Linked DNA regions of Homo sapiens. The protein of the gene in region 2 interacts with the protein of the main gene of each other region in a biochemical or structural test. Each region holds a gene or a part of one and is shown on either strand. Other genes may lie near its edges. The genes, in order: HCK and CSF3R.

What was found.
Region 1: the proteins of CSF3R (region 2) and HCK form a complex in vitro, tested with the Homo sapiens proteins (one study listed by BioGRID).

The regions. Positions count from the first base shown.
Region 1 is NC_000020.11:32,043,073-32,058,914, reverse strand, and holds the start of HCK (tyrosine-protein kinase HCK), read right to left. Parts: upstream 6,674-15,842; 5' UTR 6,491-6,673; coding exon 6,429-6,490; intron 4,700-6,428; exon of another isoform or gene 4,636-4,699; coding exon of another isoform or gene 4,634-4,635; intron 1-4,633. UniProt on the Homo sapiens protein: Non-receptor tyrosine-protein kinase found in hematopoietic cells that transmits signals from cell surface receptors and plays an important role in the regulation of innate immune responses, including neutrophil, monocyte, macrophage and mast cell functions, phagocytosis, cell survival and proliferation, cell adhesion and migration.
Region 2 is NC_000001.11:36,471,782-36,487,160, forward strand, and holds the start of CSF3R (granulocyte colony-stimulating factor receptor isoform a precursor), read right to left. Parts: upstream 11,133-15,379; 5' UTR 11,030-11,132; intron 9,757-11,029; 5' UTR 9,697-9,756; intron 8,300-9,696; exon of another isoform or gene 8,206-8,299; intron 7,736-8,205; 5' UTR 7,716-7,735; coding exon 7,652-7,715; intron 3,893-7,651; coding exon 3,596-3,892; intron 2,107-3,595; coding exon 1,983-2,106; intron 1,842-1,982; coding exon 1,654-1,841; intron 906-1,653; coding exon 736-905; intron 611-735; coding exon 457-610; intron 359-456; coding exon 285-358; intron 1-284. UniProt on the Homo sapiens protein: Receptor for granulocyte colony-stimulating factor (CSF3), essential for granulocytic maturation. Plays a crucial role in the proliferation, differentiation and survival of cells along the neutrophilic lineage.

The DNA.
Region 1 (15,842 bases), on a different chromosome or scaffold from region 2:
TGGACAAATACCCCGGTTCCCTCACCTCTCAAGCCTGTTCTACCCTGGCTCCCAGAGCTCCTCAGTGGGATTGAGCTCCAGGTGCCCGCAGTGGTAACTGGGCTTAGAAGACACCTTTAATGACTACCTCCTGTTCCCTGCCTCACTTCCTTACTCCCCTAGGAGGGTCTCTGGAATCAGCTCTCAAACTATTTGCATTTGAAACCTTGCCTAGGGTCTGCTTCTGGAGAAACTCAAACTAAGACATATACGCCATGATGGACTAGTGTGTGTATGTGTGTGTGTGTGTGTGTGTGTGTGTGTGTGTGTTTTGACATAAAAGGAATTGTGCTGCAGGAATCATGAGTAGTATCCTCCTCAGTTCTCCCCCTTTTTTTTTTTTTTGACAGAGTCTTGCTGTTGTCAGCCCAGGCTGGAGTGCAGTGGCAAGACCTTGGCTCACTGCAACCGTGCCTCCCGGGTTCCAGCAATTCTCCTGCCTCGGCTTCCCAAGTAGCTGAAATTACAGGCGCCCGCCACCACGCCCGGCTAATTTTTGCATTTTTAGTAGAGACGGGGTTTCACCATGTTGGCCAGGCTGGTCTTGAACTCCTGACCTCAGGTGATCCACCTGCTTTGTCCTCCCAAAGTGCTGGGATTACAGGTGTGAGCCACCGTGCCCAGCCTCAGTTCCATTTTTTTTTTGGATTTGGGAACTGAGGCTCAGAAAGGGAAGAGATTTGCCTAGTGCATCACAACCTGTCTTTGGCAGAGCTGGCACTCAGACTCGGGGTCGTCTACTGTACTGTACCCACTGTTCTTCATTTCTATGGTAGAGATGAGGCTGGGATTCCTGTTCTCTTGGCTGCACTTACATCTCCTGGGCCAAAGGATTTCAGGGTGATGCCTGGAACTCAGGGAGGTGACTCGAAGGGAGAGTCAGGAGCGCACGTCCTAGCGCAGTGCCATCCAGAGGATGCAGCATGTGGGACCACAGCCGGGGCCAAGACCAGGGCACATTTACACTTAAGCACAGGCTGCTTCTGCATCATTACCCACGCCTCTGAAAGTACCTTCAAACTCCCAGTCCTGTGGGGGAGGAAACTGGAGAAATGGGGTGGGGACCAACATGTGGTTGGTGCATGTGGTGGGGTTTGTTTAGAAAGGCAGAAGTGATTGCTTGATGACTTGTGGTATAAAAAAAGAAAAATAAACAACAACAAAAAGATGTAAGAAAGAAAGAGGCTGAGAGAGATTGTGCTACTAACTTGCTGTGTGACTTTGGGAAAGTCAATTACCCTCTCTAGGCTTCACATTCCTTTTCTTTTCTTTTTATGAGACAGGGTCTTGCTCTGTCACCCAGGCTGGAGTACAGTGGTGCAGTCTCAGATCACTGCAACCTTCACCTTCTGTGCTCAGACGATCCTCCCACCTCAGCCTCCTGAGTAGCTGGTACTACAGCCATGTGCCACCACACCCAGCTAATTTTTGTACTTTTTGTAGAGACAGGGTTTTGCCATGTTACCCAGGCTGGTCTCGAACTCCTGAGCTCAGATGATCTGCCTGTCTCGGCCTCCCAAAGTGCTGGGATTACAGGGTGAGCCACCGCACCCAGCCCTTCATGTTCCTTTTCTATAAAAAAGGAAGCCTTGTCATGACCCGAAGGGTGGGGTTTGAAAACTCAAATGACTATAGGGATGTGGAGGGTTCTGCGGATGAGGAAAGTGGGCCTGGCAAGGGCTGTGCAAGCTGGACAGCCCAGGTGTAGCCCCCAGGGCAGCCCCCAGCTCCACTGAGGTTGTCTGAAGAGCACTGGAGTCGTGGGTTCTAGTCTCAGGGCTGCTAACTCTTCTAATGTTTTAGGAGACAGAAATCCAGATTATGTGAGCTCTCCTGAGTTTAAATGTTAGCAACTAATTAAAAATAATCGCTGCGGGTGGAGGGGTGTTCGGGGAGGGCAGCTGAAATATCTCAGGCAAGGGAGGGAGGAGGTTGTCCAACATTCATTGCGTTTGTCCCATCAGTGTTTTTTTGAGGCCCTACTATGTGCCAGGTGCCAGGTGTTAGAAGATACAGTGGTTTATAGGACAAACATGTTTGTGCTCTTGTAGAATTTACTTTCTAGAAGAGTTTAAAGTCCAAGCCCTGGCTAGTCCTTAGAATGTAGACAACTTTCTCCTTACTTTCTGAGGTAAGAGCCCTCAGAGGGCAGCCTGGTTTGAATGAGATTAAGATTCGTGCTTTCTGTACCCATTAGAATGGTAATAATAATACTAATAAAATATAAACATAGTAGGCATTGGCAAGGATGTGAAGCCAATTGAAACCCTTGTATATTACGGTGGGAATGTAAAATGGTGGAAAACAGCATAGCAGTTCCTCAAAAAGTTAAAGATAGAACTACTGTTTTTTTTTTTTCTGAGAAGGAGTCTCGCTCTGTCGCCCAGGCTAGAGTGCAGTGGCTCGATCTCGGCTCACTGCAAGCTCCGCCTCCCGGGTTCATGCCATTCTCCTGCCTCAGCCTCCCGAGTAGCTGGGACTACAGGCGCCCACCACAATGCCCGGCTAATTTTTTTGTATTTTTTTAGTAGAGACGAGGTTTCACCGTGTTAACCGGGATGATCTCCATCTCCTGACCTCGTGATCCGCCCGCCTCAGCCTCCCAGAGTGCTGGGATTACAGGCGTGAGCCACCGCACCCGGCCACAGAGATAGAACTTTTATATGACCCAGTAACTCTACTTCAGGTATATACCCAAAGGAATTGAAAACAGGTGCTCAAACAAATACATGTATGCACATGCATGCTCATAGCAGTATTATTTTCAATGGTCAAAATGTGGAAACAACCTGAATTTCCATCTGTGGATAAATGGGTAAATAAACTGTGGAATATCCATACAATGGAATATTATTTGGCCACAAAGGGAATAAAGTACTAATAGTTGCCACCATGTGGATGAACCTTGGAAAACATTATGTTAAGTGGAAGAAGCTAGACACAGAAAGTCACATAGTATGCTTCTATTTATGTTAAATATCCTGAATAAATTAGTCCGTAGAGGCAAAAAGCAGATTGGTGGTTGCCAGGGGCCGGGGGAATGGGGGGTAATTGCTTAATGGGTACAAAGTTTCCTTTTTCAGGGGTGATGGAAATGTTTAGGAGCTACTGACAGGTAGTGTTTGTACAACATTGTGAATATACCAAATACCACTGAATTGTTCGCTTTAAAAATCATATAGTTAATTTTATAAAGTTATGTGAATTTCACCTCGATTAAAATATTTCTAAAAATTTTGAACTATATAAAAGATTGCTCTGCTAGAAAGGTTAAGCAAATTATAATACAGGCAAACAGTGGAATATTATGCAGCCACTAAAAATTTAAGAACATTTTAATGACCTGGAAAATGCTACAATGTAATACTAAGCAAATAAATAGGATAAAAATAATCTATGTGTAGCATTATACTAATTATGTTAATTTAAAAGTGCATAGAAAAGACTACATAAAGATACATGAAAATATTGGTTATTGTTCCCTCAAAAGGTTCATGCTTCCATTTTCTTGAACACTTATTAAGTGCCAGGCATAGTGAGTAAGGCAAGTGAAGTGCCTTACAGCAGAGAACATGAGGCCTGAAAGAAAGGCCATTGATCCAGAGACGGCTGGGAGATCAGCAGAGCAACATTCTTCTCTCTTCTCTGCCCCAGAGTCCCTGGTGACCCTTCTGGGCTACAGTACTCCTCTCACACAAAGGGGAGTGTGACAGGTGCCCTCTCTGGGGAGCCATCCAGCCTTTTGGTGTTTTCCTCAAGAACCACCTGTACATGGGCCGAAAGCTACACATCCAGGATGCTCCTGTCAATATTGTTCGTTGTAGTGAACGCCTAGGAACAACTTGAGTATTTATCCACAGGGGAAAGAGAAATACTGTAGAGTCGTTACCTGCTGGGATACTCCACAGCAGCTGGAAGGAATGAATGAGGCCTCTATTTTCTATTTCTCATCCTGGGTAGATTTTGACAACTTAATGATAAGATGGGGCAAATATGCTCCTCTGCTATCCCCATTGTCAGAATTGCAGAAAAGTCTCACAATTAGATAGTTTTTTGTTTTGTTTTGTTTTGAGACGGAGTCTCGCTCTGTGGCCCAGGCTAGAGTGCAGTGGCACGATCTCGGCTCACTGCAAGCTCCACCTCCAGGGTTCACGCCATTCTCCTGCCTCAGCCTCCCCAGTAGCTGGGACTACAGGCGCCCGCCACCATGCCCGGCTAATTTTTTGTATTTTTAGTAGAGACGGGGTTTCCCCGTGTTAGCCAGGATGGTCTCGATCTCCTGACCTCGTGATCCGCCCGGCTCAGCCTCCCAAAGTGCTGGGATTACAGGCGTGAGCCCCCGCGTCCGGGCTTTTTTTTTTTTTTTTTTTTTTTTTTTTTTTTTTTTTTTTTTTTTTTTTAGGTGGAGTTTCGCTTTTGTTGTCCAGGCTGGAGTGCAATGGCGCGATCTCGGCTCACTGCGACTTCTGCTTCCCCGGGTTCAAGCGATTCTCCTGCCTCAGCCTCCCGAGTAGCTGGGATTACAGGCATGAACCACTGCATAGATAGCATTTTTAAAGCACACAAAACAATCCTACGTGTTGTTTATGCGTACATTTATATGCAATCCATTTTCAGAGGCACATCCTGGAAGGACTGTAACTCATGACAGCGGTTGCCCCTGGGGAGGGAGAGAAACAGGACTGAGAGTGATACAAGGTGGGGAGACTTCAATTTTTTCTGTTACTTTTAGTAAATTAATTTTTTAAAATCTCAAAACAAACACAACAAAATGCTATTATTTGTTAATTCTGGATGGTGGATTCTCGGGACATCTAATATATTATTATCTTCACTTTTCTGTATTTTAACCTGTCACCCCCTCCCCTAAAAAAAAAAGGACCATAAAGAGAAAACCATGGGATAAGGCAACTGATAGGCATTGAGGCCTTTCTCTGTGCCAGGCATAGGCTACCCCAGTGGTTCTCAAAGTGTCCTCCTTGGATCAGCAGCAGCAGCATCACCGGGGATGGAAGTTCTCATTGTCCTGCACAGAGCTACTGAATCAGAAACTCTAGGATTCGGCCCAGCAATCTGTTTTCACAAGCAGTCCAGGTGATGCTGATGTAGGCTAAAGTCTGAGAACACGGGGCCATATGTCTAGCTAGGGCAATGTTAACATACATTAAGCCTGTGTACTGTCAGACAGCATTCTCAAAGCTTTCCTTCAGTAACTTTTTTTTTTTTTTTTTTTTTTTTGAGACAGAGTCTCTCTCTGTCGCCCAGGCTGGAGTGCAGTGGCGCGATCTCGGCTCACCGCAACCTCCACCTCCCAGGTTCAAGTGATTCTCGTGCCTCAGCCTCCCGAGTAGCTGGGATTAAAGGTGTGTGCTACTACGCCCGGCTAATTTTTGTACTTTTAGTAGAGACGGGGTTTCACCATGTTGGCCAGGCTGGTCTCAAACTCTAGACCTCAAGAGATCCACCTGCCTCGGCCTCCCAAAAAGCTGAGATTACAGGCGTGTGCCACCCTGCCCGGCCCCTTCAGTACCCAATTAATCCTCTAAACAACCCTGTGAAGGAGGTACTATTACTCTCCCCATCCTGCAGTTGTGAAAACAGAGGCAAAGAAAGGCCAAATCCTCTACCCCAGCCCCAACAGGCAGTTTGCCCCTAGAAGCCCCCTCCGCTACCCACTAGCCTGTCTCTCACACGCACCACCTCTCGCATACTCCAATTTCCTGCATCCTTGCAAGAAAGACTTCATAGCCCCGTTTTACAGATGAGGAAACGAATTCGGAGGCGGAGAATTCGTCCAAGGAGGAAAGAGACAGGGCATGCATGCAGTGTGGTCTGGGGCCAGGAGGTTTGGGGGTTTGACCTAGACCTGTTGTGGGAGGAGGGGCAGAGAGCCGACCAGCTGCAGCCGGCCTGGGTGTGGCTCGCACGTCACGCCTCCGCCCAACTACCCCCTTCCCCAAGCTGGCTGCCAACCCGGCGTGACCCGGCCCCCACCGGGAACCGTAAGGGCCTTCCCCTTCCCGGGTTCTGTGAAGCCCCATCCCTTCCTTCTTTTTCTTTTTTAAATTAAAAAAAAAATCCCCGCCCCCCCCCAAGAAGGGGAACCTGGACGGCCCAGAGAAGTGGTGGATAAAGTCACTGCACGGGCCCGAGCGTCCCCTTCCCCGGGAATCCAGCAGTCCGCAACAGTGCCGCCCCTCCCTAGGGCACCCTCCACTCGCTGTCGACCCCTCATCCCCCGGGCTACCCGCGGCTCCCCCGACGTTCCGTCTCCCCTCGCTGCCCCCAGCCGCACCCGTAGCCAGCCCTCCCCAGGCTCCTGGGCTCCCTCCGCCTCCTGGGACCCCTCGCGGGCCGGGTATTCCCGGTCCCCTGTGCGCGGCACTCACCTGGGCGCCCGCTCCTCGTCTCGCGGGCAGCCCGGATCCTCGCAGCTTGAGCGCCCCCCCAGCTCGGCAGCCCCTGAGGTTCCGGGGTGCCAGTGCCGGGAAACTGACTTTCTAGAACTAGAGGCGGGGGCGACGCTCTGAGGGGCTTTGGTGCCGCGGGCGTTTCTCGTCCTGCACTGTCTGAGTCCCTTCCCACTCGCCTCTAAGCCTCTGATGTGCTCCCGAGCTGGGACCAGGGACGTGGTGGCGCCCGCAGGCCATCTGGGCGCCTTAGCCGCGCCCTGAGCGAGGCTAACTCCGCCCCAAGTGTCCTAACACCTCCCCGAAGATTCAGACGCCACCCCAGGATCCTAACCGGCTCCCCGAGGGTCATAACCTCCGTCTCCTGCAAGAAGGATCCCAAACCCTCCACGAAGAGAAAAAAAATATTAGCACCATCCATAGGAGGCTTCTAACGCGTCCACCAAGGATGCGAACCCCCATCCCTTCCGCTCCACTTTCCCTAACACCTCCCCATCCCACCGCCCAGCGTCCTACCCCAGTCTCCAAAGGATCCCAAATCCCACTCCTAGGGATTCGAACCCGCCCGTCTAAGAACCCCAGCACCCGCTCCAAGGCTCCCAAGATACTAACCCCGCCCCGCCAAAGGATTTTTAATCCCACCTCTGAAGGATTTTTAAACTCAACTTGCCCCCAAAGATTCTAATCTGCCCAGTGGAAGGATCCGAACTCTCACTTCAGTGGATTCTAACCCTGCCCTAAGATTTAGAACACAAACCCCAGGGTTCCAATACCGCTCCTGCTCCTGCGCGATCTAACCTCCCGCCGCCTAAGAGTTTTAATACCCAGGGGTCTATACCGCCGGTCCAAAGATTCCAACCCTGCCCTTCAGAGATCCTAACCCCACCTATCAAGGGATTCCTGCCACAGTCTTCAAAGATTCCAACCCACCCTGGAAAGGCCTTACCCTACCCCGGAAGCATCGTGATCTCTTTTCCCCACCACTCCGACCCCTCCCTTCTGGCCCGGCCCTCCCCAACTCCGCGGCCCGAGACTTCCAGGCAGGTCTGTGGTCAGCGGTTTCTCTTCCGCAGGCCTGCTCCATTCAGACACCATGCAAAGTTCCTCTCTCGAAGGAACCACCATGGCCATGCAAAGTTCCCTGCCCGAAGGAACCACCCTGGCTTCCTGGCAGCTCAGAGGACTCCCAAGCTGGGGGAGGTGGTCGGGGGAGGGGAGGAGTCGGGCTGGAGGGTGACTGAGGCCCCAAGTGGATGGGATTGTGCCCAGCTCCAGGCAAGGGCAGAACACACCCTCTCCTGGAAAAGACAGGGGCTATCACCCTAAATGCTGTGTAACACACCTCCAAAATCTCCAAAACTACAAGAATTCTACCGCGTCTCTCTATTCCCGTTGCTACCAGCTGATCAGGACCACAGTCATTTCTTCATTCATTCATTCATAATTCATTCAGCAAAGCTGTCCTGGGGGCTGGGGAATGCAGGGGTTCTTAAATTTGGCACTATTGACATTTGGGCCAGGTAATTCTTTGTTGCGGGGGACTGTCCTGTGAATGATAGGATGTTTAACAGCATTCCTGGGCTCTACCCACTAGTTGTCTATAGCATCCTCCTCCCTAGTTGTGACAACAAAATGTCTCCAGACATTTGTAAAATGTCCCCTGGTGGGGAAGGGGGGAAGAACCATGAATGAGAAAGACAATGACCCTACTCTTATGTTTTTGGTATATGTACCTGTATGGGCCTTTTTTCCTTCTCTTTAGCCTACAGTGCTAACTATTTTGAGGGGGTCTCCCATCCAAGTACTAACCAGGCTTGATCCTGCTTAGCTTCCAAGATCAGACAAGATCAGATGTGTTCGGTGTGGTATGGCATAGACAACTTAAAAAAAAATAGAGATGGGGTCTTGCTGTATTGCCCAGGCTAGTCTTGAACTCCGGGGCTCAACTGAACCTCCTGCCTTGGCCTCCCAAAGTACTGGGATTATAGGTGTGAGTCATTGCACCTAGTCTGTATGTGCTTTTTATAAAAACAGATAATGTTCTGAATGTATGTTTAATGTTACTTATTCACTTTTGTACATTCCCTCCCGCCACCCCCATCACTGTTGTTAATATCCAGCCATGTTGCCAAAGGTAGCGGCTGTACGTGTAGTCACTGTTTACATCCTTCACATTTTATTTATCCATTCTCCTAGTCATGGACACCTAGATTGCACACAATTTCCCACTAGTGTAAATAGTGCCACAGTGGACATCCTCATACACGTCCCCTTATCGTCCTACATTAGAATTTTGTTAAGTACTTGCTTTGCCAAGAATGACAGGTGTTTGCAGAATCGCCACTGCCCCACTCTTTCTCCCATCATTTCCCCTTATCTTTACCAACCCTTGGTATTATCCACTGGTCTTAATTTGAGTTCCCCAGAAGCAGACCCTGGACATGGATCCAAGTGAAAATAGTTTATTTAGGAGATGCAGAAGACACTGGTAGGGGAGTAGGTGGATGAGACAGGGAAGGGAGGGAAGCCAGTAAAAAGGAATATCATGAAGCCAGTTACCATTGTGGGCAACTGGAGTTCAATTCTGCAGGGATCTCTGGAGATATACCCACTTCAGGGTTACTCCACCTGTCAGGCGAGGGAGCTGGGGCATTTACACACCAACTCCTGTTGGACACCGGATGAGGGGTACTCCAGGGGTACTGACCTTCCAGCATTTTGGCCTCCCTGGTGCATGCTTCAGCCACCAGAGGGTCTCCAGGAAGAGAAGTGCAGCTCTTACTTAAGGCCCAGGGGGCATCGGAGGGTCCGCATTAGCATCAGCTACATCTCCTTTCAAAAGTTTGCCATTCTGATAGTAAAGAGCCAGAGAGCTGACACATGTTCCTGTTCATGGACAGTTTCCCAAATGTTTTGTCCTGACAGTAATGCTGTAATTGAAATCCTTGTGTATGTTCCCAAAGCTTCTGTCAACTTTATCGTGACATAATTTCGTGAATAAAATCTACCATCATAAATATTCAGCTTGATGAGTTTTGGCAAATATATATACCTGTGTAACCACCACCCCAATCAAGATATAGAACATTTCTATCACCCCAAAAAGTTCCCTTATGTCCTATTGCAGTCAACTCCTCCCACACTTAGGTAGCCTTAGGTAAGCACCAATTGGCTTTTTGCCATTATACATTAGCTTTGTCTTTTCTAGAATTTCTCATAAATGCAGTCATACAGTATGTTTCTTTTGTGTTTGTCTTCTTTTACTCAGAGATTTTCCATGTTGTTGCATGTTCCAGTAGTTCGTTCATTTTTACTGCTGAGTAGTATTCCATAGTATAGATGTAACACTATTTGTTTATCCATTTATTTGTTGAGAGACATTTGGGTTGTTTTCAATTTGGGGCTATATAAATAAAGCTGCTATAAATATTTATGTACAAGTTTTTGTGTAGGCATATTTTTATTTCTCTCGGGTAAATACTTAGGATTGGAATTGCTGGGTCATATAGCAAGTGTGTGTCTAACTTGCAATAAATTGCTGAATTGTTTTTCTTTTTTTTTTTTTTTTGAGGCAGGGTCTTGCTCTGTCACCCAGGCTGGAGTGCAATGGCGAGATCTTGGCTCATTTTAACCTCTGTCTCCTGAGCTCAAGTGATCCTCCCACCTCAGCCTCTGAGTAGCTGGGACTACAGGTACACCACCATGCCCAGCTTATTTTTTTTTTTTTTGTAGAGATACAGTCTCACCGTGTTGCCCAGGCTGGTCTTGAACTCCTGTGCTCAAGCCATCTGCCTGCCTCAGCCTCCCAAAGTGCTGGGATTACAGGTGTGAGCCTTTGTGCCTGGTCTAAATTGGTTTTTGAAGTGGTTACACCATTTTGCATTCCCTCCAGTGATTTATGATTTCCAATTGCTCCACATCCTTGCCAACATTTGGCATTATCATTCTTTTCAATTAAAAAAAGTTCCCATCTAACCCATATTTGCACCAAATAACATTTATACAATTACAAATTGTATTCTAAAACACCCCCTTACCAGTCTTTGGGGGTGGCAAACATTTTGTCTACTCAATTATTCATTCATTCATTGTCATGGAGACTATAGCTGACCACAAAAGTGGTGCTAAGGGCCAGGTGTGGTGGCTTACACCTGTAATCCCAGGACATTGGGAGGCCAAGGTGGGCAGATCACCTGAGGTCAGGAGTTCGAGACCAGCCTGGCCAACATGGTGAAACTCCGTCTCTACTAAAAATACAAAAATTAGCCGGGTGTGGTAGTGGGTGCCTGTAATCCCAGCTACTTGGGAGGCTGAGGCAGGAGAATTGCTTGAACCTGGGAGACGGAGGCTGCAGACAGCCGAGATCGTACCACTGTACTCCAGCCTGGGGGACAAAGCAAAACTCCTCAAAAAAAAACAAAAACAAAAACAAAAACAAAAACAAAAGACTGGTGCTAAATGCTCCATCGTAGGAGTCCAACTAGAGTTCAAACCTGGCACTGCTGTTATCAACTGGGTAATGTTGTACAAAGAGGTGACTTGATTGTCACCTCTTTGAGTCTCAGTTTCCTCATCTGTCAAGTCGGAATAATACTACTACTTACCTCAGTGGGTCATTTTGAGAATGAAATATAAGTAAAGTGCTTAGGTTTGCTATATATAGATGGTCAATTTCATTAGTACAGCCTAATCATTAAGATTTCAAACTGCTGCTTAGGCACTGATTCAAGTATAATTTGGAAATCACCTTTGTCACTCTGCCTTGTTCCAAAGATAAAAGAAGGAGCATATGACTTTAAAAAGGAGACATTGCCCTGTGGGTAGTGGACCCTTTTCAACATGGAATAAAAGGAACTCTGAAATGAGGGTGGACTTTGCTGTGACTGAAGTCTGGAGAACCAAGTGAGTCCTGGGGCAGGAGGCCAATTCTAGATCAGGAGTAACAAGGCCCAGATTCTAGTGCTCCTTCCACCTCTAGACGTGTAGCCTTGAGCAAGCCATTTGATGTCTCTGATTCTCTCATTTGGTCAACAAACATAATAATGGGCACATACTGGGTAATGAGTCTTGAGTGTTAGGGAACACAACAGAGAATGAGGGAGCCGAAATCCCTGGCCTCATGGCATTTTCCACTTACTGGAGGGCATTGGACAAATGGTTGCACCAATAAGGGCAGGTTGGAATTTTGCAACAAGCACTATCAAGGGGTGGGGCTCCATGCAGGGGCTTTGACAGGTTAACAGGGGAAGGTAGGGAAGCCTCCCCAGAACAGGTAATATCTTTTTTTTTTTTTTTTTTTTTTTTTGGAGACAGATTCTCACTCTGTTGCCCAGGCTGGAGTGCAGAGGCGCAATCTCAGCTCACTGTGACCTCCGCCTCCCAGGTTCAAGTGATTCTCCTGCCTCAGCCTCCCGAGTAGCTGGGATTACAGGTGCCTGACACCACACCTGGCTAGTTTTTGTATTTTTAGTAGAGACAGGGTTTCACCATGTTGGCCAGACTGGTCTCGAACTCCTGACCTCAGGTAATCCACCGACCTCAGCCTCCCAAAGTGCTGGGATTACAGGCATGAGAAACCGTGCCCTGCCAATAAATTCTTATTGTTTCAAGCCTTTAAGCTTCGGGGTAGTTTATTATGCAATCTTGATAACCAATACAATACACAAAAGCCTCAAGGAAAGTAGGTGCTTTGTGTGTCTGAAGAACCCCATTGTGTCTAGCAGAGGAGGGAGACCCAAGGTGAGGTCCATGAAATTGGCCAGGCCACTCAGGACCTTGCAGGCCTCTGTGAGGAGCATAGGTTTTATTCTAACATACATGGGACGCTATTGGATGGTTATAAACAGGGGAGTGGCATGATAATTCATTCACTCAACAAATATTTATGGAGCACCTACTATGTGCCATGTGCTATTATTGATGCTGAGGATACAGTAATAAACAAAATTAATTCCTTCCTATGTGCTTAGAATTTACATTATTGAGGGGAAGATGGATAATAAACAGATACTGAAAACTCATCCCATGTTTGGGAATGATATGGGTTATAAGAAAACTAGGGAGGTCAAGGGGAGAGGTAGTGGGATGGAGAGGAGCGATGGTGTAACTTGAGACAGGGTGGTCAGAGAAGGCTTCTCTGAGGAGGTGGCATGTGAGCAAGACCTTTTGAATTGGAGAGATAAGTCATGTGATAATCTGGAGGAATTGTGTTCCAAGCAGAAGCACCAGTAACAGCAAAGGTCCTGAGAGGCAACAGCACGTGGTGTGTTTAGGGAATACAAAGAGCCCATTGTGGCTGGAACACAGAGGGTGCAGACAAGAGTGGTGGAGACAGTGTTGGAGAGGTAGTAAGTGGGGTCATATTGTGAAGGCCACAGACATCTTGGTATCGATATTAAATTTTAATTGACACAAGATGGGAGCTGTTGGAGGGTTTTGTTTGTTTGTTTTGAGACAGAGTCTCACTCTGTCGCCCAGGGTGTACAGTGGCACGATCTCGGCTCACTGCAACCTCCACCGCCTAGGTTTAAGTGATTCTCCTGCCTCAGCCTCCCAGGTATCTGGGACTACAGGCGCCCGCCACCACGCTTGGCTAATTTTTGTATTTTTACTAGAGATGGGGTTTTGCCATGTTAGCCAGGCTGGTCTCGAACTCCTGACCTCAGGTGGTCCACCTGCCTCAGCCTCCCAAAAGTGCTGGGATTACAGGTGTGAACCACTGTGCCCAGCCCTGTTGGAGGGTTTTGAACAGAGGAGTGAGCCAAACTGGCTTATCTTTTCACAGGATCTGTCTGGCTGCTGGGTAGAGAATGAATTGGAGGGGCAAAGGGAAAGGAGGGAAACCAGTGAGCAGGGAGAGAGTCATCCAAGGGCAAGATGATGGGAGCTTGGGTCAGAGTGGTAGCAGCTGACGACTAAAGGAGCTCAGAGAGAGAAAACATCAGAATGCCTAAAAGAATTCATAGTATGTACAGGAGAATCATCGCAGCACTTCTTTTACTAGGAAAAGACAGAAAATAACCTAAATGCCCATGATTTGGGACGTGGGAAAATAAATCTTAATAAAATAATTGAATACTAAGCAGTTGTCAAAAATAATAAGGATATATAACAACCAACTGTACCTGGGCACGGTGGTGAAACCCTGTCTTTACTAAAAGTACAAAAATTAGCTGGGTGTGGTGGCGGGCGCCTGTAATCCCAGCTACTCAGGAGGCTGAGGCAGGAGAATCACTTGAACCCGGGAGGTGGAGGTTGCAGTGAGCCGAGATTGCGCCATTGCACTCCAGCCTGGGCCACAAGAGCGAAACACTGTATTTAAAAAAAAATGTATCTCTATACACTAGTAATAAACAATCTGAACATGAAATTAAGAAAACAATTTTATTTATAATATCACCAGAAGAATAAAATACTTAGGAATAAATTTAACAAAAGTAGTACAATATACTCTGAAAGCAAGAAAACATCCTTGAAAGAAACTTAAGACCTAAATAAAATCATCCCATGGGTTGAGAGAGACATCTCATGTTCATGGATTGGAAAACTTAATAGTGTTGATGATAGTACTCCCCAAACTGATCAATACTATCCCTATCAAAACCCCAGTTGCCTTTTTTTTGGGGGGGGGTGGCAGGAATAAACAAGTTGGTCCTAAAATTCATATGGAAATGCAAGGGACCTAGAACAGCCAAAATAATCTTGAAAAGAACAACAAAGTTGCAGAACTAACACTTCCTGATTTCCAAAACTTACTACAAAGTTACAGTAATCAAGACAGTGTGGTATTGGCATAAGAATAGAAATATAGGTCAATGGGACAGAATTGAGAGTTGAGAAATGAACCCTCACATTTAAGGCCAATTGATTTTCAAAAAGAGTGCCAAAACAATTCAATAATGGAAGAAAACAGTATTTTCAACAAATGGTGCTAGAACAACTCAATATTCACGTGCAAAAGAATGAAGTTGGATCCCAAAATGGATCGTAGATCTAAGTGTATGAACAAAAACTATAAAACTCTTTGTGTGTGTGTGTGTGTGTGTGTGTGTGTGTGTGTGTGTGATGGGGTTTCACTTTGTCACCCAGTTGGAGTGCAGTGGCGCGATCTTGGCCACTACAACCTCCACTTCCCAGGCTCAAGTGATCCTCCCACCTCAGCCTCCTGAGCAGTTGGGATCACAGGCGCACACCACCACTCCGGCTAATTTTTTGTATTTTTGGTAGAGAAGGGGTTTCGCTATGTTACCCATGCTGTAAAACTCTTAGAAGAAAACACAGAAGTAAATTTTCATGACCTTGGGCTAGGCAAATTCTTCTTAGATGTGATACAAGTGACAAAAGGAAAAAATAGATAAATTGGACTTCACTGAAATTGAAAACTTGTGCTGCAAGTGATACTATCCTGAAAATGTAAAGACAACCCACAGAATGGGAGGAAATATTTGCAAATCACAGATCTGAAAAGGGACTGGGGTCCTGAATATATACATAGGATGGCTCAATAATTTAAAAATCCACAACTTAAAAGTGGGCAAGAGATCTGAATAGATAGTTCTCCAAAGAAGCTATACAAATGGCCAATAAGCACATGGAAAGGTGCTTAATATCATTAGTTATTAGAGAAATGCAAATCAATTCCACAATGAGATTCCACTTCACATCCATTAGAACTGCTATAATTTAAAAAGACAGATAATAACAATTGTTGCTGAGAATATGGAGAGATTCCACCTCATACAATGATGGTGGAAATGTAAAAGGAGCAGCTGCTTTGGGAAACAGTCTGGCAGTTCATCAAAAAGTTACACATAGAATTACCTTATGACCCAGCAATCCCACGCCCAGGTATATACCCAAGAAATCTGAAAATATATGTCTACACAAAGATCTGTACATAAAATCTTCATACCAGCATTATTCATAACAGCCAAACAGTGGAAACAACTTCAATGTCCCTCAATGGATAAATGTGGCATATCCACCCAATGAAATATTATTTGGCAATAAAGAGGTATGAAGTACTGATACAGGCTATGATATGGACGGACCTTGAAAACATTATGCTAAATGAAAACAGCTGATCATAAAATACCACATATTATAAAATTCAATTTATATGAAAGGTCCAGAACAGGCAAATCTATAGAAACAGAAAAGAGGTTGGGCACAGTGGCATATGCCTGTAGTCCCAGCCACTCTGGAGGCTGAGGTAGGAGGATCACTTGAACCCAGGAGTTCAAGACCAGCTTGGGCATCATGCTGAGACCTCCATCTCTACTTAAAAGAAAAAGAAAGGAGATTATTGGTTGCATTGGGCTGGGAGCTGAGGAGAAATAAGAAGTGACTGCTAATAGGTACAGGGTGGTTTTGGTGGGTGGGTAATGAAAATGT
Region 2 (15,379 bases):
TTTTCCCTCTGTTCCCTTGTGCTAGGTTCTAGGAAGGAGGGCAGGAAGAAACAAGTTGGTGGACACAGCAGGCTCTTAACTATTCACTGAACCACACTGTGACGTGCGTTACAGTCTGTCCAAAAGCTAACTCAGCTCCCTAGGCACATGCAAAGTGCATGCAAATCACATATAAATGCGTCCACGCCTCCCAGACCTGTTGGAGTCCTAAGCCCCGGTTTGTAGGGATCTGTTTGGACTGCGGGAGGTGTCGAGGTGGAGGGATGGCCTTCAGAGGGAGTCACCTTCCAGAACAGCTGCACTGTCCTGGGGTCCAGCTGCCTCTGCCGCCACCATGTGTCCAGTCTGACAGTGGGGGCTGTGGATGGAACAAGAAGAGGGGGTGCCAGTTGGGGAGGGGCCTGGGGCCTGGACTGGATACTGTTGGCTGCTCCCAGCCTCTCATCACCTCCTTACCCCGTTCGGTAGTTCTCAGCTCCAGGCTGGGGCTCCAGTCGCTCCAGTGGCCAGGCAGGGGCCAGCGGATGCAGCGTATCTGCAGGGTGTAGGCCGTGGCTGGGAGGAGCCCGCAGAGCTCATACTGAAGGGCCTCCAAGGGGAGGGGGCCCACCTGGTGAGGGGTGGACAGGACTCTGAGCCTTGGATCGCTGGGCCATTCTAGGGCCAGCTCGAGCCCGACTTACCCTGCCCCCTGCCCCCACCACCTCAGGCTCTCCAGGTTGCCCTCTGCCTCACCAGTGCCCAGCTGGCTTCTCCACGCTGCGGCTTGTGGCGCAGCTCACACTTCTGATTTATGTGCAGGCCTGGCTGCCATGGCTCCCAGCACAGCTGTAGGCAGCCTGCCTGGGGAGGGGCCGCTTCAGGGCTGGGGTCCATGGTCCGCAGCATGGGGGGCTCCAGTTTCACTGCAAGGAGTGGGGCTGTCAGAAGGTCTCCCTATCCCACCCTAGAGGGCTCTGCCTTAGCTCCCTCTTGTCTCCCTGTCTGTGGTTCACCATCTGTCCACGTTGCCAATGACACGTTTCTGTGGTTCGATCTCTATGTGTCTTTGTTTCTCTCTAGGTCTCTGTTTCCGCTCTTGCCCCAGGGCCTTTGCACTGGTTGTTACTTCTGCTTGAAATGTTTTCCCTCCAGATATCCAGCGGCTTGCTCCCTCATTTCCTTCAAGGATCTGCTCAATTGTCACCCTCTTAGTGAGGCCTTTCTTGACCAGCATATTAAAATAGCCAGTGCTCCCCTTCCCCCCTCTCTCTCTATGCCCTTCTCCTCCTTTAATTTCTCCTTTCTGCTTATTGCTATCTGAAATTCTATCTTATTTTCCCCCCCACTTGAATCTAACATTCTGAGGGCATTTTTGATGCTTTGTATCCCCAGTACCTAGAGCAGTGCCTAACATGTAGTGGGTGCTTTAGGAAACACGCTGAAAGCATGACTGAATGTGTCTCTTTGCCTCTGTGTCTCTTCCTGTCTCTGGGTCTGTGTCCCCATTTCTCTGTCTCCAGCTGCACCTTTCTTTGTCTCTGTCCCTCTTCTGTGCCTCTGTCTCTAGGTCTTCCAGTGTCTTCTTGTCTGTCGCTAGTTCTGTGTTTCCCTCTCCATTCCTCTCAGTGTCTGCCCATTTTGGGGATCCCCTCCCTCCCCTGCATCACCCACCAACATCCATGGGATCAAGACACAGTTGTGGGGACATGCTGGTCCCCAGCGCATTCTCTGCCTGCACCCAGATGCCCATATTCTGGTACAACAGCAGGTGTTTGCGTGGGATGCAGCAGTGGCTCTGCCCGTCCTTGGGCACGCAGTCCAGGATGGAGTCCCCTTGGGTCTGACAGTTGCCCCGGCTCCTGCCAATAGTCCAGGCTTGGGTGCCAAGCAGAGGAAGAAAGCGAGGCTCCCTTCTCCCTCCCAGAGGCATGCCCAGCATCCTACCCATGCCCTACCCCAGAATCCAAAGGGAGGGGACCAAGGTGGGGGCCCCTCCTCACTTGAAACTCTTCAGAGTGAAGCTGGTGGGTAGGTGGGTCTCAGGTCCTGGCTCCCACTGGCAGATGAGGCTGCTGGTTGTGAGGTTCATGAGGCAGGAGAGGTTGTGGGGTATGGCTGGAGGGTCTGCATGTGGGTGGGAAGAGTGTGAGGGCTTTGGGTGGGACCACTCAGAAAGCTTCCTCTGGGACCAGCTGGCCCTGTTGCCTTGCCCTGGCTTGGTTCCTCTGTTGTCACCTTGTCTGTCCCCCTGTCTCCAGGCAGAGTGGCTCTGGAAGGGCAGCCCTGGGGGAAGCTAAGTTGCAGGCATGCACCGGGGCAAGCATCACAGACTCCCAGCAGCCCAGTGGTGGCCCACTTCCAAGGCCCCCAACTCTAGACCCTTTGTCAGTGACAGTGTAGTGTTTGAGTTTTCATCCTGGTCCTGCCATTCATTAGCCCTGTGATCTTGAAGTTATTTAACTGCTCCATGCCTCAGCATCCTCATCTGTAAAATGGGGATAATGGTAAAATCCCACCCCCTAGCGTTATCACAAGGGCTAAATGACTCACTCTACATGAAGTGCTCAGAACAGTGCCTAACTTACAGGAAATGCTATGTAAGTGTTAGCAGTGGCCATTACTGGTGCTTTTTTTTTTTTTTTTTTTTTTTTTGAGACAGAGTCTCACTCTGTGGCCCAGGCTGGAGTGCAGTGGCGTGATCTCGGCTCACTCGGCTAATTTTTGTATTTTTAGTAGAGACGGGGTTTCCCCATGTTGGCCAGGCTGTTCTCAAACTCCTGACCTCAAATGATCCACCTACCTCAGGCTCCCAAAGTGCTGGGATTACAGGTGTGAGCCACTGCACCTGGCCCATTACTGATTCTTAAACAAGAACCTCGGTCTTTGTTTTTTCCTTATGCCTCAGCTTGGCACAAACTCCATCCTGCTCAGTTTGAAAGGAAGTTTGAAACTGGGGTGGGGGACAAGCCCAGCTGGTAGAGGATGTTCTCCCTGGAGACACCCTCAGATGGCTGAGGACTTGGGCTATGTAGAGTAGTGGTCACAACACTGGCTTTAGAGCCACACTGCCTCCATCCTTATTAATGTGTGATAAGGGCAAGTCACTTACCCTCCCTGAACCTCAGTTTCATCATCTGCAAAGTGAGGCTACATAGTAGTACCAACTGGTACTACTGTTACCTGATATCATGCCCATAAAGTGCTTATTAGATAAGAGCTCAATAGGTAGTACTCTTTTTTTTTTTTCTTCTTTTTTTTGAGACCAAGTTTCGCTTTTGTTGCCCAGGCTGGAGTGCAGTGGTGTGATCTCAGCTCATTGCAACCTCCGCTTCCTGGGTTCGAGCAGTTCTCCTGCCTCAGCCCCCCGAGTAGCTGGGATTACAGGCACCCGCCACTATGCCTGGCTAATTTTTTTGTATTTTTAGTAGAGGCGGGGTTTCGCCTTGCTGGCCAGGCTGATCATGAACTCCTGACCTCAGGTGATCCGCCTGCCTCGGCCTCCCAAAGTGCTGGGAATACAGGCGTGAGCCAACGTGCCCGGCTGGTAATATTCTTATTAGTATTGGCAGGAGGGTGTTGGAGGCAGAGTAGTTGGATGGCTGGAAGGACTTACAGCCTGCGCGCAGCTCAACCTGGTCCAGGATCTGCAGGCTGTTGCCCCAGTTCAGGCAGCAGGAGAGAAAGGCCTGAGTGTGGTTGAGGTGGGGCAGGGTGATGATAGATTCCTGGGTCCCATCAGACAGACGCTGCTGCCTGCCCCCGGGCTGAAGCTCTGCTCCCAGTCTCCACAGAATCTGTGGCTCCGGGTCCAGATGGCTGCAGTTCTGCTTGATGATGCAGGAGGCTGTGATGGGATCCCCCAGGTGGACGATGGGGGCTGAGACACTGATGTGCCCGCACTCCTCCAGACCTGGGGTGGAAGAGAATGGGCCAGGAACGACGCCTCTGCCTAGCAGAGCTGGGCTATAATCTAGGCCTTTGTACTCCTAGACTCAGAGGCCTCACCTTCCTGTCTCACCCTTCAAGATATGGGGGCTGGAAATGGAAGGATGGGGACGGAGACTTCGAGAGGCTACGGGGGTGACACAGAGATAGTGATGTGCTGGTAACCGTTTATCAGCCAGCTTGGCAGAGAAAAGCAGACCCTGGTTTGTAGTGTGTGCCTTTCCGCGGTGTAAGTGCTCTCACTGTAGCTGATTTCAGCCTATTGATGTGACATCATTGATCGGGGAGTTGGGAAGAGATGTGCACAATTAGTTTTTGCAAGCCAGCACCAGCACACCACCAGATGGAGACTGTTAACTCCCCAGTGCCCTCCCCAAGGATGGTGCAAGCAGTGATTAGAGTGATAAGAACCCATAGCCACAGCAATCTTTTCACAATTCAAATCTGATTCTGCTACCCCATCTCCATCGCAGCACTTCAATGGCACATTATTGCTCTGAAAGGCAGTGTGGTGTGATGGATGAGTGTGGATGTTGGAACTAGACTGCCTAGGTTTAAATTCTGGTTCTATTGCTTATTAATTACATGATCCTGGTATATTTCTAAGACTTCCTGTGCCTCAGTTTTCTCATCTGTAAAATGGGGATAAAAATCGTCCCTACCTTAGTGTTGCTGGAAGGATTACATGCGATAACATATGGAAGGCATTTAGAGCAGTGTCTGGCATGTGAGTATTTGCTGCCATCATTAGGATAAACACTCAAATCCTTCAATAGCTCCTGTGGCCTGGCCCCTGCCTGACCCTCTCAGTTCCAGCTTATACCGGTCTCTCAGCTCCAGCTATTCTGGCTCATTCTTGCTATTCTTTGAAAACTCCAAAATCTTTCTAATCTCTGGATCTTTGTCCCTGCTGTTTTTTTTTTTTTGTTGTTGTTGTTTTGTTTTGGTTTTCTTTTTCTTTTCTTTTTTTTCTTCAAGTTCTTGCTCTGTCACTCAGGCTGGAGTGCAGTGGCACGATCACGGCTCAGTGCACCCTTGACCTCCTAGGCTCAAGTGATCTTCCCACCTCAGCCTCCTGAGTAGCTGGGACTACAGGTTCATGCCAGCACACCTTGCTAATTTTTTGATTTTTTTTTTTTTTGGTAGAGATGGGGTTTCACTATGTTGCCTAGGCTAATCTTGAGCTCCTGGGCTCAAGCAATCCTCCTGCTTCAGCCTCCCAAAGTGCTGGGACTACAGATGTGAACCACTGTGCCCGGCATGCTGTTCTTTTTGGAGGGACTCTTCTTTCTCTCTCCCACCCCTGTTTCACCTGGTTAACGCTTAGGCATCTTGAAGAAACCAGACCAGGCACTAACGAACTGGAGGAGGCCAAGGTCCCTGTACTTCCTCAAAGCTCTTATTATCCTTCATAATTATAGAGTCTTATGATTATTTACTTATCTATCACTCCAGCTAGACTATAAATTCTGTGAGGCCAGCAGACCTTGGCTGTTTGCTTATTACTGTATTCCCAGTGCCTAGTACAGAGTAGGACCTTGGTGAATATTTATTATTATTATTATTTTGAGAAGGAGTTTCGCTCTGTCACCCAGGCTGGAGTGCTGTGGCACAATCTCGGCTCACTGCAACCTCCGCCTCCCAGGTTCAAGCGATTCTCCTGCCTCAGCCTCCCGAAAAGCTGGGGCTACAGGCACGCACCACCATGCCCGGCTAATTTTTTTTTGTATTTTTAGTAGAGATGGGTTTTCACCATGCTGGCAGGCTGGTCTCGATCTCCTGACCTCGTGATCCACCCGCCTCAGCCTCCCAAAGTGCTAGGATGACAGGCATGAGCCACTGCGCCCGGCCGATGAATTTTTTTTGATAAATAAATAAACAAACAAATCAACATACACTTTGCCCGCAATGCTTTCTGTCCTCTCTCAGGTGTTCTTAGGCCCGTTTTACTGATGGGGATGCGAAGGCCCTAAGAGGAGAAGCAGTTTGCCCAGGGTCACAGAGCAAGTTCATGATTCTCAACAAAGGGCTTCTACTGCTTCACAGGCTCAGGATTTCTTTTTTTTTTTTGAGACGGAGTCACTCTGCTGCCCAGGCTGGAGTGCAGTGGCGTGATCTCGGCTTACTGCAAGCGCCGCCTGCTGGGCTCACGCCATTGTCCTGCCTCAGCCTCCCGAGTAGCTAGGACTACAGGCACCCGGCACCATGCCCGGCTAATTTTTTGTATTTTTAGTAGATACAGGGTTTCACTGTGTTCACCAGGATGGTCTCGATCTCCTGACCTTGTGATCCACCCGCCTAGGCCTCCCAAAGTGCTGGGATTACAGGCGTGAGCCACCGCGCCCGGCCCAGACTCAGGATTTCAGGCTGGAAGAAACTTTACAAGGTTGTTTGCTTCAAAACTCTACCTGATGCTCTGCCCTCTACAGCAGGGCTTGAGTGGCCTATTTTTGTATAGCCTAACAACTAAAGATGTTTCTTACATTTTAAAAGAGTTAAAAACAAGCAAAGCAAAAACCAAATAAAAACATGCCACAGGGCTGGGCGCGGTGGTTCATGCCTGTAATCCCAGCACTTTGGGAGGCCGAGGTGAGTGGATCACCTGACGTCAGGAGTTTGAGACCAGCCTGGCCAACATGGTGAAACCCCATCTCTAGTAAAAATACAAAAATTTGCAGGGCCTGGTGGCAGGTGCCTGTAATCCCAGCTATTCGGGAGGCTGAGGCAGGAGAATCGCTTGAACCCGGCAGGCGGAGGTTGCAGTGAGCTGAGATCCCGCTACTGTACTTCAGCCTGGGCAAGAGAGTGAGACTCCATCTCAAAAAACAAAAAAACAAAAACCAAAAAACATGCAATAGGCAGGGCGTGGCGGGTCATGCTTGTAATCCCCATACTTTGGGAGGTCAGGGCAGGTGGATTGCTGGAACCCAGGAGTTTGAGACCAGCCTGGGCAACATGGCAAAACTACATCTCTACAAAAAAATACAACAACAAAAAAAAATTAGCTGGGTGTGGTGGCATGCCCTGCACTACCTTGGAGGCTGAGGCGGGAGGATCACTTGAGCCCAGGAGGTTGAGGCTGCAGTGAGCTGCGATTGTGCCACTGCACTCCAGCCTGGGCAACAGAGGGAGACCCTGTCTCACAAACGAACAAACAAACAAACAAACAAACAAACAAGGAACAGAGACAGTATGTGGCCTGCAAAGCCTAAACATTACTGTCAGAAAAAGTTTGCCAACCCCTGCTGCACAGCATCTTTATCAATCCTGGCTTTAGCTTGCATACCCCTGGGGATGGGAAGTTCTCTACCTCTCAAGACAGAGTTTCCATGGTTGGAAACCAAGCTCTGCCTGGGCTTCTTTATTTCAGGATGAAACCTGTCCCCTTGTAGCTTCCATCCTGATCCCTTTGCTGCCCACCAAGGCTGCATAGGACCCATGGGTTGCTTCTGACAGCTTGGTAGAGATTTGCGGACAAGATCTGCGCCTCACTGGCCTTTTCCAGGATGACCAGCCCGGGTCGTCTCACCATTCCTCTTGGGTGGTGGTTTGCCTGTGGAAGTCTGTGGGTGGGAGACCAGCTACCCCACATCTGTGGCTCAGACTTGAATCTTGTGGGATTCTCTGGGAATCCCAGGAGCCATGTGGCAGTGCAAGGAAATTCCCAATATCTCTCCTTGTAGCTTCCCCTCCCCACTGCACCCTCATCCTTGGCCATACTCACTTCCGGGGAGCAGCAGGATGATCAGGGCAGCCCAAGTCAGGCTGCAGTTTCCCAGCCTTGCCATAGCACCAACTTGATGTTCACCTGTAGGCAGAAGGGTTGTTTAAGACCATGGGCTTTGGAGTCAGAGCTGATCTTAATCCTTGTCTGTCACTGTGCAGCTTTGACTAGGTTGCTTGACTTCTCTGAGCCTTCGTTTCTTTGCAAAATGGAAGTAACAGCAGCCTATACTGCATGGGACTTTGAGAGGAAGACACAAAATGATGCAAGTCAAGGGCTTTTCACAGTGCCTGGAACATAGGAAATGACAGTGACAGCCACAGTTATTATACTTGCCTTCCAGGAAAGAGCAGGGAAAGGAGCAGTGAGGAAGAGCATTCTTCCGCCTTCCCAGCTATCTAAGCTAGGCTACCCCTAGAGAGCAGAACCTGAGATGAGGAATTGCATGCTGGTAGTTTATTTTGAGAAGATCCTAGCAGCAGATAAGGGACTGGGGAGAATGAAACAGGGAAGGAGAGAAAGCCAGCACAAAGTTACATCATCATGTTGGTCACCTCTATGGACAACTGGGGCTCTATCCTGCTGGAACCTTCCAAAGAGCCATGTAGAACACTTCTCAGAGCTGTCCACTGGAGGGTCAATTTATCCCTTGGATGGGAGGGAAGATGGAAAGATTTACCCACTGACTCCTGCCCCCCATTGGTCAAGGGATGCCTCTTGGGGTGTTCATTCCCTGGCACATCCAGGTTGGGCATGCATGAGTACTAGGCAGGTTCTCCTGGGGAAGCCATGCCAGTGTTGTCAGGGACACTCCCTGGAAGAAAGGGAGAACTCTATGGAGCAGCTGAGGCAAGGGGCTGTCAGGTTATGCCTGCAGGAAGCTGGCTGCCTCAGCCATGTGGGCTGAGAGAATATCAAGTGGGGCACCCGAAGGGTCCAGTGTGCCCCCAATTTTGGGCACAGACCTCTGGTGGCCTTCTGGGGTCAGGCATCATGAGGTCACGGCCATAGCACCTGGATGGAGGGTGCCTTGGCTCCAGTCTTAGGAAGTATGCAGAGGTTTCTACCACTTGGGTGGGTGTCCAGCCTCATCTTCACCCTGCTCCCATTGGGGTCTTGGAGCCAACACCTGATCCTCCAGCACGAGTTGGTGCTCTTGGTGGCAGATCAGTGGGAATCGCTGGTCAGCTTGCACGTACATATCTGGACACATACACGCAGGTGGTGTCCCAGCAGATCCCTCGTGCTCAGCAGGGAGAAAGGTAGGAGAATCCTTTTCTCTTCCTCCCAGACAGAGGTGTGGATAAGAACTGCCCAGATACCCAAGGTTGTTACTGCTCACAGGGGTCTTACCCAAACCCCCAGTCTATCCATGTATATATTGCAGTATCGGAATACCCAGTGACTGCTAGCCCGTAAGTCTCCTTTGTGCAAATCAGAAAGAAAGCACCCCTTCCTCTGGATGGATGCAGCACCACACTAGGACCTGGCAACTAGGGAACAGCCTGGATTTCGGCTCCAGTTACTCCTCAGTTTTGTGCAGTGAGAAACCTGTACAAGTATCCCGAGCATCTGTCTACCCATCGGTGGTTGGTAACCTTCTTACTATAGCATACCAGTTTGATTATCCCCCCGCAACACTGGTTGGGGAAGATTTAGCCTCCAAGGCCCAGATTTTGGGACACTGGTTTTCATCTCCATGTGCTTTTGATCCTATCCCAGCCCTGTTGCCCTAGCCAGGGTCAGCTTCAGGCCCAGCCTATGCCCCGTGCAGTACCACCCTATCCGCCTCCACTGGCTCCTGTCCAGAGTAGACAACCTAACCCCAAGAGGCCCCGGCATCCTTCCCCTGGGTGCTGGGTGTTGGCCTGCTTGGCCTCAGTCTCTGGTCCTCCACTGCAGCCCTGGACGTCCCCCAGCCTGGTTAAGTGGGCCTAGGACCTGTTGGAGCATGGTCTCACTCTCTGGGGGGCCGATATGCAGAGAGGTTTGGAGCCCAGCTCAGATTCAGGTCACCTGACTTGATCTCCAGCTCCGCCACTTACCAGCTTTGTGATCTTGGACAAGTTACTTCACCTTTCCGAGCCGAGCCTCAGTTTCCCCATCTGTGGGAAAGAAATAACATTAGCACTCACTCCTCAGCGTTGTTGTGAGGATGAAATGAGATTATTTTGGTAAAGGCATTTAGCCCTGTGCCTTGCATGGAGTTGGCACTCAGCAACCATAGGTTATTTTCACGAGCCATAAATAGCAGGTCAGCAGCTCACAGAATCCAGCACAGTTCAGTTTTCCCCTCACCCCTGCCTCCCTCACAGCCTGTGTGGTCACACCTCCCAGGACTGCCACCTTGCTTTTGTCTGTGCCACACTGCGCAGTTCCAAAGCCCCCTTTCTGGATCCTCTCCTCCTAACTCCTGGGCCCCCTGGCCCTCCTGTCACTGCGGCCATCTCTGCTGGGCTCTGCAGGTGCTCACTCCTGTGGCCCAGCACAGCTCGATGTCTCCTGGGCTGGCTGCCTTCACATTCCCTCTTTCTGTTTCTCCCTCATCACGCTCAGCCCTCTCCCCTCACACTCTCTTCCCCACTTCACACCCCTCGCTCCCTTGCTGTTTCTACTCTCACCTCGAGATTCTTTCTGTGGGAAGGGTGGGGAGGGAGGAGGGGGCTGGGAATAAACAGAGGGGAGAGGCATTTCCAGATATGCTGCAGATAAAGAAAAAGAGAGAGCAACAGGAAGAGTGACAGAGTGAGGCGGTGACTGAAATCCACACAGACTGAAACGACAGAGAGACTCGCCAAGAGGACGATTGAGGCCAGAGAGATATCGAGAGACAGAGAAAAAGGGCCCAATGTACGCCGACCCAGAGAGTGGGCGGGGGGGGGGCACTCGGAGGCCTGGAGCCCGGGAAGCGTCTGTTACCGAGAGTTTAAGATTCAAGAGATAGCAGGAAATATGCGAGACAGAGAAACTCAGAGAGATAGCAAGCCAGAGAGAAGCTGAGGAGGAAAGATGGAAACAGAGAGTGAAATAGAGACCCAGACGGGGAGGGGTTGCGCGGCTGGAACTCACAGACACACACGTCCTGAGAGACAGAGGCATGGGGAGGGGAGAATGATTATGCCTGTCCCCAGCCCAGCTCAGTGTCCCCAAGGAGATACTTGGCTGTGAGTGACTTCCCTGGTGCAATACCCCCAAAAGTAGGGGCATCCTGTGAAAAGAGACTCAGTGTCCAGGGCTGGGGTTCCAAAGGACGAATCCCGGGCCCCAGGCCTAGGACCCCGGACATGAACACTTGGCAGAGCTGTGGGGAGTGGCCCCAGGATTCCAGCTCTCCATCAAGCCCAAGGCTCAGCCCCTCTCTAGGGATCCCCTACTCACGTTGGCACCTCTGGCCCAGCCCCTGCTTGGCCTCCTTGGTCTCTCTTCTCGTCAAGAGAAGTTCCTGAAACCAGCTGCAGTCCAGCTTCTCTCCCCGAGCTCTGTCGTTAATGGCTCAGCCTCTGACAGGCCCGGGGGCTGGGGATTGCAACACCTTCCGAGCCTCCCTCCTGCCCTCCCTTGCGCCTTCGAGGGCACAGGCAGCCCCTTCCTCCCAGGAAGGAGCCTGTGAGGGAAGCTGGTGAGGCCCGGGCAGCCTTCCTGCCTTGGGGGTCTTAAAGGGCTGGGGAATGTGGCAACGATGTCCCCCTCCCCTGCCTCCGGATTTCCTGAGCTCAAAGCTTTGAGGCTGGGCAGGGCCCAGGCTCCCACCTGGCTGGGTGCCATCCTTATGCCCCCTGCCCTGGGGGAGCATCACTTGGAGGCAGGCCCTGGCTGGAAGGCTCACCCGGCCCTAAGCCTCTTTTCAGCTCTAGCCTTGGGGACCACATCTTCACAGTACTCAGAAGGGTGTGTTCCAGGTTCCAGGGAATTGTGTAACCCAATACTCACTGCTCCCCTCTTCATTACGTATTCTGTGCATTGCCCATAGACCAGGCAGATGGAGAAACAGGAATTCTGGGGGCAAGACAGGAGGACGTCTTGGTGAGGCACGGGGTCTTTATATGTTCACTAAAAATTAGGAATGTTTACCCACAATGGTTCTGCAACACTGAATATTTTGTAATTGAGTGAAATAGACTACATTTTATGTCTTTTATTGTCTGTATTCATGATTCTTCTAAAACTACAAATAATTTTCTTTGCATTTTCTGAGAAAGGTTCAAACTGCTCATAGTTTATTGGATTCATAACCCAAAAAAGGTTAGGTGCCAACAGACCAGCAGACTGTCCTTAACATATAATCCTTTTGAGGCATCTGGGTCTGGTGTGATGCTGCAGACCAGGGCTGTAGTTCTAGTTCCAAGTCAAATGACCTGACTGCCTGCTGCAACCCTCCCAAGATATCCCACAGGCTCTGCTCGCTCAGTGAGTCCCATGGACTCTCTTCTTTCCAAATATAACCAGAATCCTGGGTATTCACTGTAAAGTTCAACTTGGCTCTACGTTTGAATATTTTTATGATAATATTTGGAAAATATAAATATAACTGAAACCAATACTAGCCAGCTCCAAGCTACCCTCATCTATTGCCTAGATAATCGCAATAGCCCCCTGCCTGCTCTCCTGCTTCTATTTCATCCTTGTTCCCGCACCTGTCTGTAATTCCTTCAGCAGCCAGTGCGATATCAATCAAACAGAAGTCTGATCAGCCCATCCTCGTCCCAACCTTTCCAATGGCTCCTGTCTCATTCAGAGTCAAAGTCAAAGCCCTTTGGATGGTCTACAAGGCCCTACAAAACCTGGTATCCCTGTTACCTCCTGGATCCCTCTCCTGTTATTCTCCCCCTTGCTGCCTTGCTCCAGCTACTCTGTGTTCTTTGCTTCTTGAACTTGTTATGCTGTCTCTTGCCTCAGGGCCTTTGCACTTGCTGTTTCATTTGCCTGGACTCTTTCCCCCGCAAATAGCTACATGGGCTGGTCCCTCCCCTTCTTCAGGTCTTTGCTCAAATGTCACTTTCTCATTGAGGCCTTCTCTGAGCACCCTTTTCAAAATTTGCAAGCCCCTTCCCTCCCACTCCCTATCTCTCTCTCCCCCAAATCCCTTTTCACCATCTGATATTGGCTGTCTCAATCCCCACTAGACTGAAAGTTCCATAAGAGCAACAGTTTTTATCTGTTTTGTTCAAAACTTTATCTCCAGTGTCTATAACACTGCTTGCCACACAGTAAGGCCTCCATGCGTGTTTGTTGAATGAATGATCAACTGGATGAATCTTCCCCCACTTCACCAAATCTGTCTCTAATCCCCACGTACCTTGTCATGGTGAATTAACCACCATCCCCTCCTCTCCCTAGTCATGCAGCTCAGGGACTCAGGAGTCATTCCTTACAACCCTTTCTCCACATTCCCATGTCCAGTCAGTTCTTTTAGTTCTTTTTTTTCTTTCTTTCTTTTTTTTTTTTTGAGACAGAGTCTCACTTTGTCACCCAGGCTGGAATGCAGTGGCGCGATTTTGGATCACTGCAACCTCTGACTCCCAGGTTCAAGTGATTCTCCTGCCTCAGCCTCCCAAGTAGCTGGAATTACAAATGCCTGCCATCATGCCTGGCTAATTTTTGTATTTTCAGTAGAGATTGGGTTTCACCATGTTGGCCAGGCTGGTCTTGAACTGCTGACCTCAAGTGATCCGCCCACCTCAGCCTCCCAAAGTGCTGGTTTTATAGGCGTGAACCACCGCACCTGGCCTTCTGGTCATTTTAAATTTATTTTTTATTTTTATTTTCATTCTTTTTTTTTGAGATGGAGTCTCGCTCTGCCACCCAGGCTAGAGTGCAGTGGCGCGATCTCGGCTCACTGCAACCTCTGCCTCCCAGGTTCAAGTGATTCTCCTGCCTCAGCCTTCTGAGTAGCTGGGACTACAGGCACGCACCACCACGCCCGACTAATTTTTTTGTATTTTTAGTAGAGACAGGGTTTTGCCATGTTGGCCAGGCTGGTCTCGAACTCCTAGCCTCAAGTGATCTGCCTGCCTCGGCTTCCCGAAGTGTTGGGATTACAGGCATGAGTCACCGCGCCTGGCCCCAGTCAGTTCTTAATGAAGGAGAATGGGCCTTTTGTTCATCATTCAGAGAACTTGCTCCTGGAGCAGGTGCAGGGACACAATGGTGAGACACAGTTTTAGTTCCTGCCTTTATGGAGCTCCCGTCTCAGCCTTGCCAATGGCCCTGCAATCCTTCTCCTCTCCCTGTCTTTCTTCAGAGGCCCGTCGTCACATCCTAACTCCTGAACCGGACATGCAAGTTACCCTCGCCTCCCTCTCCTGCCTCACCAGCCCCTGCTTCCTCAGATCCAGCCCGTCATGCTCCGGTCATGCCAAATTCACTAGTATTTCCCTGCCTGCCCCAGGCTCTGGAACAACCCTGTGCCTTTCTTCTGCGGAGCGCCTGTCACCTCCTGCTGGCTGAGTCCTGTTCCTGACCCAGTTCAAGCATCCAGCCTGAGCTCAGCATCCCTCTGGGCTTCCACACCTTAGTCAAGCTGAATTAGGGGCCCTTCTCCCCATTCATCCTGTAATACTGTAGTAGGCTGTTGGCCGCCTGCCTCCTCCATTATACTGTGAACTCTTTGAGGGCAGAAACTGTATTCTCACCTCTGCCTCTCTAGCCTCAGTACAGTGCCGGACACACAGAGGATACTCAATGCATATCTGTTGGGCTGCAGAACCTTGGAGATGGTGTTTACCTCTTCCAAGCCTCTGTTTCCTAATCTGTCACAGTGATAATAACTCCTCCCAGGGATTTTGTGATAATTAAATTAGCTATCAGAAATACAATGCCTAGTATGGTAACCAGCGCATAGTAGGTGTTCAATAAAGTTGCTTTCCTTTGTTCCCTTCTGCATAATTCAATATTTAGGAGGGAGATTCTACTATTCTCCTTTGTGCTCCATTCTCTGTTGAGGACCTGCACCAGGAAATGGAGCTGCAGCAGCCAGAATAAAAGTTAGATTTAAGGAAATGAAAGTTAGATTTAAGGAAGAGCTTTCTTTAGAGTGTACTGAGGTTAAGATGATGAGCTGAGGAGTCAGGCTGCTTCAATTTGCCACTTGCTGCCTGTGTGACTCCAAACAAATGTTTAATCTCTTTAAGCCTCGGTTTTGTCATCTGTAAAATGGGGCTAACAGTATTGGCTTCATAGGATTCTTGAGAGAAATCAGTGACCGTAAGGCTTGTGGAACACAGCCAGGAACACAGTAAATGCTTAATAAGTGTTTACTATGGTGCACTGAAGAGCACAAGACAGACGAGGAGTCATCCCCTCTACCCGCACCCAGTGTCGGCTTTGTGGATACTTCCTCTTCCAGCTGTCCTGCCTCCCGCCCCTCCTCCATCAGACAAGGCCTCTGTGTGTTGGAAACCCTGGGTAAGGGAGTGCTGGTGAGGGAACCCTATTCTTGGCAGCCTAGCTACTGAGCCCCGAGTTGTTTCTGTTTCTGTTACTGCCTGTGATGTGTGGGGCTTCTGGGTAGGTCAAGGAGCAGCTTGTTTCAGAGGGGCCGGGGCGGGGTCCAGGTGGGCAAGCTGGGGTGAGTGCCCGGAAGTTGAGGCTGTGGTGCTCAGCTGCCAGGGCCGGGGTTGGCTGGAATACAGCAGGCAGCTAAGATTGTGCAAACAGGTCATTGTGCAAACGCGCCCCTGTGTGTGACCTCGATTGTGCAAACAGGTGTTTACTGGAGGCTGCTCCGCT